2 linked regions of the Homo sapiens genome follow. The protein of the gene in region 1 interacts with the protein of each later gene in a biochemical or structural test. Each region holds a gene or a part of one and is shown in the gene's direction. Other genes may lie near its edges.

Region 1 (3,500 bases):
CAGCTACTGTGAGGACCTGGTGGACGAGTGCTCACCCAGCCCCTGCCAGAACGGGGCCACCTGCACGGACTACCTGGGCGGCTACTCCTGCAAGGTGGGGGTCCCTCCTAGGGTAAGGGTTGTGGCCGGCACGAGTGTTGCCACACACCAGGCCCTGGCTGGGAGCTGGCCCAGTGGAGAAAACTGAACCTGATAGGCCCATGCACTGTTCAGTCTCATTAGGGGAGGGCTGGGGTAATCAGGGTAGACTGCCTGGAAGAGGTGGCCTGTGGAAAGCCTGAAGGAGGGTACCTATACTGAGAAGTGGGATGGGGTTTTCCCTTCCCCTAGATTGTGTCTGGGCTTGGCCAACACCTACCCTGAGGCCCTCACCTCTATCCTATGGGACGGGGTCCACCCACCCCCAACAGGCAGTGACTCCGGTCACCGAGGCCCCGCCAGGGTCTGTTGGGCTGGGTCTCTCTCCAGGTCTGACAGGAGCGAGGGGCCCGTGGCTTCGCTGGACCTGAGGGCAGCTCATGTGGCCCTGTCAGCCCTCACAGTGGGGTGTGGGAGCACTGCATCCTGGCGCCGGCTGAGCCGAAGGGCCCCTCGTTCTGTCGCCTGCACAGTGCGTGGCCGGCTACCACGGGGTGAACTGCTCTGAGGAGATCGACGAGTGCCTCTCCCACCCCTGCCAGAACGGGGGCACCTGCCTCGACCTCCCCAACACCTACAAGTGCTCCTGCCCACGGGGCACTCAGGGTAAGGGCCGCTGCACGGAGGGCTGGTGTTGGCCATCCATGGCCAGGGCAGGGGCAGGGCAGGCACCCCGGGACCGGCCAGAGGCATCCAGGAACCAGCCAGAAACTCCCATTTTCCTGTGTGAGGCCAAGGCCGACTCACAGCTGCCCAGGGAAAGGGCCCAGAGCGGGGGTCCCAGTGGGAAGGGCGTCTCCACGGCACCCTTGACACCTGCCTCTCCCGAGTGTCCGTGCAGCCCCAGACCTGAGCGCTCGTCTTCCGGGACGGACACGCGGCACGGCAGGGCCGGGGTGTGGCGGGCTTGGGCCACTGACGAAACCTGGCCCCGCAGGTGTGCACTGTGAGATCAACGTGGACGACTGCAATCCCCCCGTTGACCCCGTGTCCCGGAGCCCCAAGTGCTTTAACAACGGCACCTGCGTGGACCAGGTGGGCGGCTACAGCTGCACCTGCCCGCCGGGCTTCGTGGGTGAGCGCTGTGAGGGGGATGTCAACGAGTGCCTGTCCAATCCCTGCGACGCCCGTGGCACCCAGAACTGCGTGCAGCGCGTCAATGACTTCCACTGCGAGTGCCGTGCTGGTCACACCGGTGGGTGCCGCGCCCAGGCGGGTGGGGCGTGTGGGGCAGCAGGGTGAGCCTCTCACTGCCCTGCTCTTACCCCTAGGGCGCCGCTGCGAGTCCGTCATCAATGGCTGCAAAGGCAAGCCCTGCAAGAATGGGGGCACCTGCGCCGTGGCCTCCAACACCGCCCGCGGGTTCATCTGCAAGTGCCCTGCGGTAGGTGCAGGGGTGCAGGGAGGCAGGGGCCCGCCAGGGGAGACACCTGGAGAGGTCCACGTGGGGGCCTCGGGGCGCAGACCGGGCAGTGATCCTCCCGGCCTTCATCCTCCTCCTCACCCTGATGTCTTTTTTTTTTTTTTAGTTTCAATAAATGATTTTAGAGACATTTTAGATTTATAGAAAAATGGAGCAGGAAGTAGACTCCCTGGGGTGGCTGTCCCCTGCACGCAGTTCCCCTGGTTAGCAGCTTGCATCAATTTCACTCTGGATTTCAGTGATACATTGTTACCAACAGCAGCCCTTCCTGTACCTGGGGCTTGCCCTTGGCTTTGTGGTTGTGGGTTTGGGCTGAGGTATGACATGCCTGCCCACCCTCGCAGGATCACGGCAGAGAGTCCCTGCCCTAAAGTCCTCAGCACTCCACCAGTTTACCCCTTCCTCCATCTCCCGACCCCCTGGCACCCCCGATCTTTCTCTGTTGGTAGAATGTGTGTAAAGGGTTTTGCTGCTGGGGGCAAGGTTGCAGGCCGCCTCCCAGGTTAGAGGAGAGCGGTGGCACTGCTGGCCGAGGGCTGGGTGTGAGGTGGCGGGGGGGCGGGGGGTGGCCCACCCCGACACCGTCCTGTCTTCCCTCTCGGGCAGGGCTTCGAGGGCGCCACGTGTGAGAATGACGCTCGTACCTGCGGCAGCCTGCGCTGCCTCAACGGCGGCACATGCATCTCCGGCCCGCGCAGCCCCACCTGCCTGTGCCTGGGCCCCTTCACGGGCCCCGAATGCCAGTTCCCGGCCAGCAGCCCCTGCCTGGGCGGCAACCCCTGCTACAACCAGGGGACCTGTGAGCCCACATCCGAGAGCCCCTTCTACCGTTGCCTGTGCCCCGCCAAATTCAACGGGCTCTTGTGCCACATCCTGGACTACAGCTTCGGGGGTGGGGCCGGGCGCGACATCCCCCCGCCGCTGATCGAGGAGGCGTGCGAGCTGCCCGAGTGCCAGGAGGACGCGGGCAACAAGGTCTGCAGCCTGCAGTGCAACAACCACGCGTGCGGCTGGGACGGCGGTGACTGCTCCCTCAACTTCAATGACCCCTGGAAGAACTGCACGCAGTCTCTGCAGTGCTGGAAGTACTTCAGTGACGGCCACTGTGACAGCCAGTGCAACTCAGCCGGCTGCCTCTTCGACGGCTTTGACTGCCAGCGTGCGGAAGGCCAGTGCAAGTAAGGCTGCGGGGCTCATGGGGCTGAGGGAGGACCTGAACTTGGATGTGGCCTGGCTTGGGCCCGGAGGCCAGCATGCAGTTCTAAGGCTCTGCTCAGGGGGTGCAGGGACGTCCCCCGCGGCTGGCCAGTGGGCTGGAGGCACCGGACGGCGGGTGCGAGGCCCCCCGAGGAAGGCGGCCTGAGCGTGTCCCGCCCCCCACAGCCCCCTGTACGACCAGTACTGCAAGGACCACTTCAGCGACGGGCACTGCGACCAGGGCTGCAACAGCGCGGAGTGCGAGTGGGACGGGCTGGACTGTGCGGAGCATGTACCCGAGAGGCTGGCGGCCGGCACGCTGGTGGTGGTGGTGCTGATGCCGCCGGAGCAGCTGCGCAACAGCTCCTTCCACTTCCTGCGGGAGCTCAGCCGCGTGCTGCACACCAACGTGGTCTTCAAGCGTGACGCACACGGCCAGCAGATGATCTTCCCCTACTACGGCCGCGAGGAGGAGCTGCGCAAGCACCCCATCAAGCGTGCCGCCGAGGGCTGGGCCGCACCTGACGCCCTGCTGGGCCAGGTGAAGGCCTCGCTGCTCCCTGGTGGCAGCGAGGGTGGGCGGCGGCGGAGGGAGCTGGACCCCATGGACGTCCGCGGGTGAGTGAGACCCGGCGCCCACGGTCAATCCCCGCAACTCTCCTGGGCCCTCCCCGACGGCCTCCCTGCCCCTCACGGCCGGCGCCATGGCAAGCAGTACTCTCCCCACTTTATGGTAAAAGAG
Region 2 (3,500 bases), on another chromosome or scaffold:
TATCTGGTTGCAGATCCCTGGGCCAGGCACCCGAGGAAGATGCCAATTAACAATGGAAATGCCTTCCAGGTTTTGAGGTCCTACTGTGTGCAGGTACTGTGCCAGGTGCTGGGAGTACAGCAGTGAGCAAAGCAGACAAGATCCCTGACTTTGCAGCTGACAGCCTAGAGTGAGGATACGCAGCATAAAGAATGCATGCAGATTAATACATCATGTCACAGCCTGGCGCAGTGGCTCACACCTGTAATCCCAGCACTTTGGGAGGCTGAGGCAGGTGGATCACCTGAGGTCAGGAGTTCGAGACCAGCCTGGCCAACATGGTGAAATCCCGTCTCTACGAAAAATACAAAAAAAATCAGCTGGGTGACACATACCTGTAATGCCAGCTACTTGGGAGTCTGAGGCAGGAGAATCGTTTGAACCTGGGAGGCAGAGGTTGCAGTGAGCCGAGATCACGCCACTGCACTCCAGGCTGGGTGACAGAGAAAGACTCTCTCTCATATATATATATAGTCAGTCAGGTAATGCCAAGTGCCAGGGAGGAAAATAAAGCAAGCTCAGAGGACAGCAATAGGAGGGCTGCACTTTTAGATGTTTGAACACACACCTGTAAGAAAGAAGGGAGGAAATGATGAGAACATCTGGGAATGGTGAGGTCATATTCCAGGCAGAGGGAACAGCCAGTGAGAAGGCCCTGAGGCTGGACAGTGCCTGGTGTATTTGAGGAACAGCAAGGAGGCCAGGGTGGCTGGAATGGAGTGAGTGATAAGGGGGAGGTAGACAATGCCAGAGGAGGACAGGGCCCCACAATGTGTGATTTCGTTGTAGGTCATGGCAAGGACTTTGGCTTTTACTCCAAGTGAGCGGAAGCCAGGAAGGATTTTGAGCAGAGGAAAGATGTGATCTGACTTGCATTGAGCAGGATCCCTCTGGCTGCGGTATGGGAAATGGATTACAGAGGCCAGTCATGAGTCTACTGCAATGGTCCAGGCAGGAGAGATAACATGGCGGGGACTGGGTGGTGTGAGTGCAGTGGGGAGCAGTGGTCAGATGTGGATGTGTTTGAAGGTGGAGATGACTGGATTTACTGACAGATTGGAGGTGGGATATGAGGTAGAAGTCAAGGATGAGACCAAGATTTGGGGGTCCAAGGAAGAGCATCCGGAAGCGCAGGAGCTGCCAGGAATTGCTATGTGAAGACTTCAGGAGGAGCAGGTTTGGGGCAGGGGAGAGCAGAGCTGAGTTCAAGGTGCCTGTTAAACCTCTCCAGGGAAGGGTCATGAACCTGGCTCCCAGGGGAGAAGACGGGGCCAAAGATGGCAGATTTTGGAATCATCAGAGTAGACACGGTATTTATCTCAATTGATCCTCTCAGCAACCCCACAAGCAACTGTTGCTACAGCTGGCAAACGCAGCAGTCTTCTATTGCATGTCTGCTTATGCCCATTTTCAACATGAGAAAACTGGGGCCCAGAGATGCTGAGTTGCCTACGCACAGTCACAGAGCTGGAAAGTCAGAAAGTCAGGACTTGAAGTGAGGGCTGTCTGCCTCCCAGCCCTGGGGTCCCACCCAGACCCTCTGCAGCTGTTCTCACTCACTCCTCCCCCAAATACTGTGTGAGAGGGAAGGGCTGGGTCATGGATGATCACCCCTCTTTTTGAGATGGGGCCACTAAGGCCTGAGGAGGCTTAAGGGACTTTCCCGCAGTTGAGGGGAAGTCAAGTGTGCAGCCTTTCTGCAGGTGTGCCAAATGAACCCAGCAAAAGACTCACTTCATCAGCCCCAAGACACAGAGCAGGCTAAAGGCTCTGAGAAGTCCTGCGGCCTGGACCTTGGGTTATCTCTGGTTAGCCCAGAGTTTCCCGTGGAGCCTTGCTGTCAGGGGAGCACGCAGAGCTTTGGCAAACATGAAGCTGTGGTTTGGAGTAAAGCCTCAGTGCCCTCCTTTATGAAAGGGGGCCCACCTGGCAGTCAGCAGTTGTTTGTTGAAGGAAGTAACAAATGAAACAAACAGATGAATGAAAGTAACAAATAAGCAAATGAAGGAATGGACGAATGCAGGGATGAGCACAAAGTGTGAATGAATTAAAAAAAAAAGAATCCATTTGTGACCTAATGAATTTATTCATTCATTCAACAAATATCGCTCGAGCACCTGCTGTGTGCAGGTGCTGGGGATATAGCAGTAAATAAAACAAAATCCCTGACCTTGTGGCTATTACATTCTAGCGAGGGGGGGACAGACAGAAACCAAGATAAATGGGTAGAATGTGAAGTATATCTGAGGGAGAAAATGGAGCGGGGAAGGAGAGAGGGGAAAGTACGTGGGGGGTGCACATTTTTAAATAGGATGATGGTAAATGAAGGAATGTCTGAATGCCTGAATACGGGAGTGGGCTGAAGATGGAGAATACATAAAGGTATCAATTTAAAAAAAGCATAAGGGGCCCAGGGGCGGTGGCTCACACCTGTAATCCCAGCACTTTGGGAGGCTGAGGTGGGTGGATCACCTGAGGTCAGGAGTTCGAGACCAGCCTGGCCAACATGGCAAAACCCCATCTCTACTAAAAATACAAAAATTAGCCCAGCAAGGTGGTGCATGCCTGTAGTCCCAGCTACTCAGGAGGCTGAGGCAGGAGAATCGCTTGAACCTGGAGGCGGAGATTGCATTGAGCCTAGATTGTGCCACTGTATTCCAGCCTGGGCGACAGAGCAATACTCTGCCTGGAAAAAAAAAAAAAAAAAAAGTGGGGCCGGTCATGGTGGCTCACACCTGTCATCTCAGCACTTTGGGAGGCCAAGGCGGTTGGATTGCTTGAGCCGAAGAGTTTGAGACTTAGCCTGGGCAACATAGGGAGACCCCTGTCTCTAAATAAATAAATAAAATAAAATAACATAATGGATGACTGCAGGCACGAATGAATGACCTAAGGAAAGAATCAATGAATGAATGAATCATTGAATGAAGGAATATATGAATATGTGAACTAGGGCATGGATAAGTGAATGAACTAATGCAAGAATTGTTGAATGACTAAATGAAATAGTGCTTAAATTAATGAACTAAGGCATGAACAGATTGATGAATGAATCATTGAATGAGTGAGCAAACTATAATGAAGAAGAGGACTGCATGGGGCCTATGTGCATGGCCTTGGTCTCTGTCTATGCCTGCCCCACTTTATCTGACTCTGGTCTGAAGAACCCCCAGGCCCCCTTTGCCCTCCCCCGCACCATCCAGGGCCTGTGATAACCCCCACTTCAGTGTCTGTCTTGGCCCTGGAGAGGTGGAGGGTGGGGGAGCCCTCCACACCTTGCTGGTTTCCTACCCCAGGCTATCTTGGCACCCCCACCCTGTTTGGTGGCTCTCCCGCCCCTACGCCCAATCTACTGACCACGCGCCCCTGCCCACCTCTCGCCCCAGTGCTATGCGCTGAACCTTTAGCCCCGGCCCCCCTCACCCTGGCTGCCGCCTGTCCTGACCCTCCAGCCTGTGCTG

Evidence for each region.
Region 2: the proteins of NOTCH1 (region 1) and DTX1 form a complex in vitro, tested with the Homo sapiens proteins (one study listed by BioGRID).

The regions. Positions count from the first base shown.
Region 1 is NC_000009.12:136,504,549-136,508,048, reverse strand, and holds part of NOTCH1 (neurogenic locus notch homolog protein 1 preproprotein), read left to right. Parts: coding exon 1-94; intron 95-611; coding exon 612-744; intron 745-1,075; coding exon 1,076-1,333; intron 1,334-1,409; coding exon 1,410-1,522; intron 1,523-2,167; coding exon 2,168-2,739; intron 2,740-2,944; coding exon 2,945-3,376; intron 3,377-3,500. UniProt on the Homo sapiens protein: Functions as a receptor for membrane-bound ligands Jagged-1 (JAG1), Jagged-2 (JAG2) and Delta-1 (DLL1) to regulate cell-fate determination.
Region 2 is NC_000012.12:113,073,730-113,077,229, forward strand, and holds part of DTX1 (E3 ubiquitin-protein ligase DTX1), read left to right. Parts: intron 1-3,500. UniProt on the Homo sapiens protein: Functions as a ubiquitin ligase protein in vivo, mediating ubiquitination and promoting degradation of MEKK1, suggesting that it may regulate the Notch pathway via some ubiquitin ligase activity.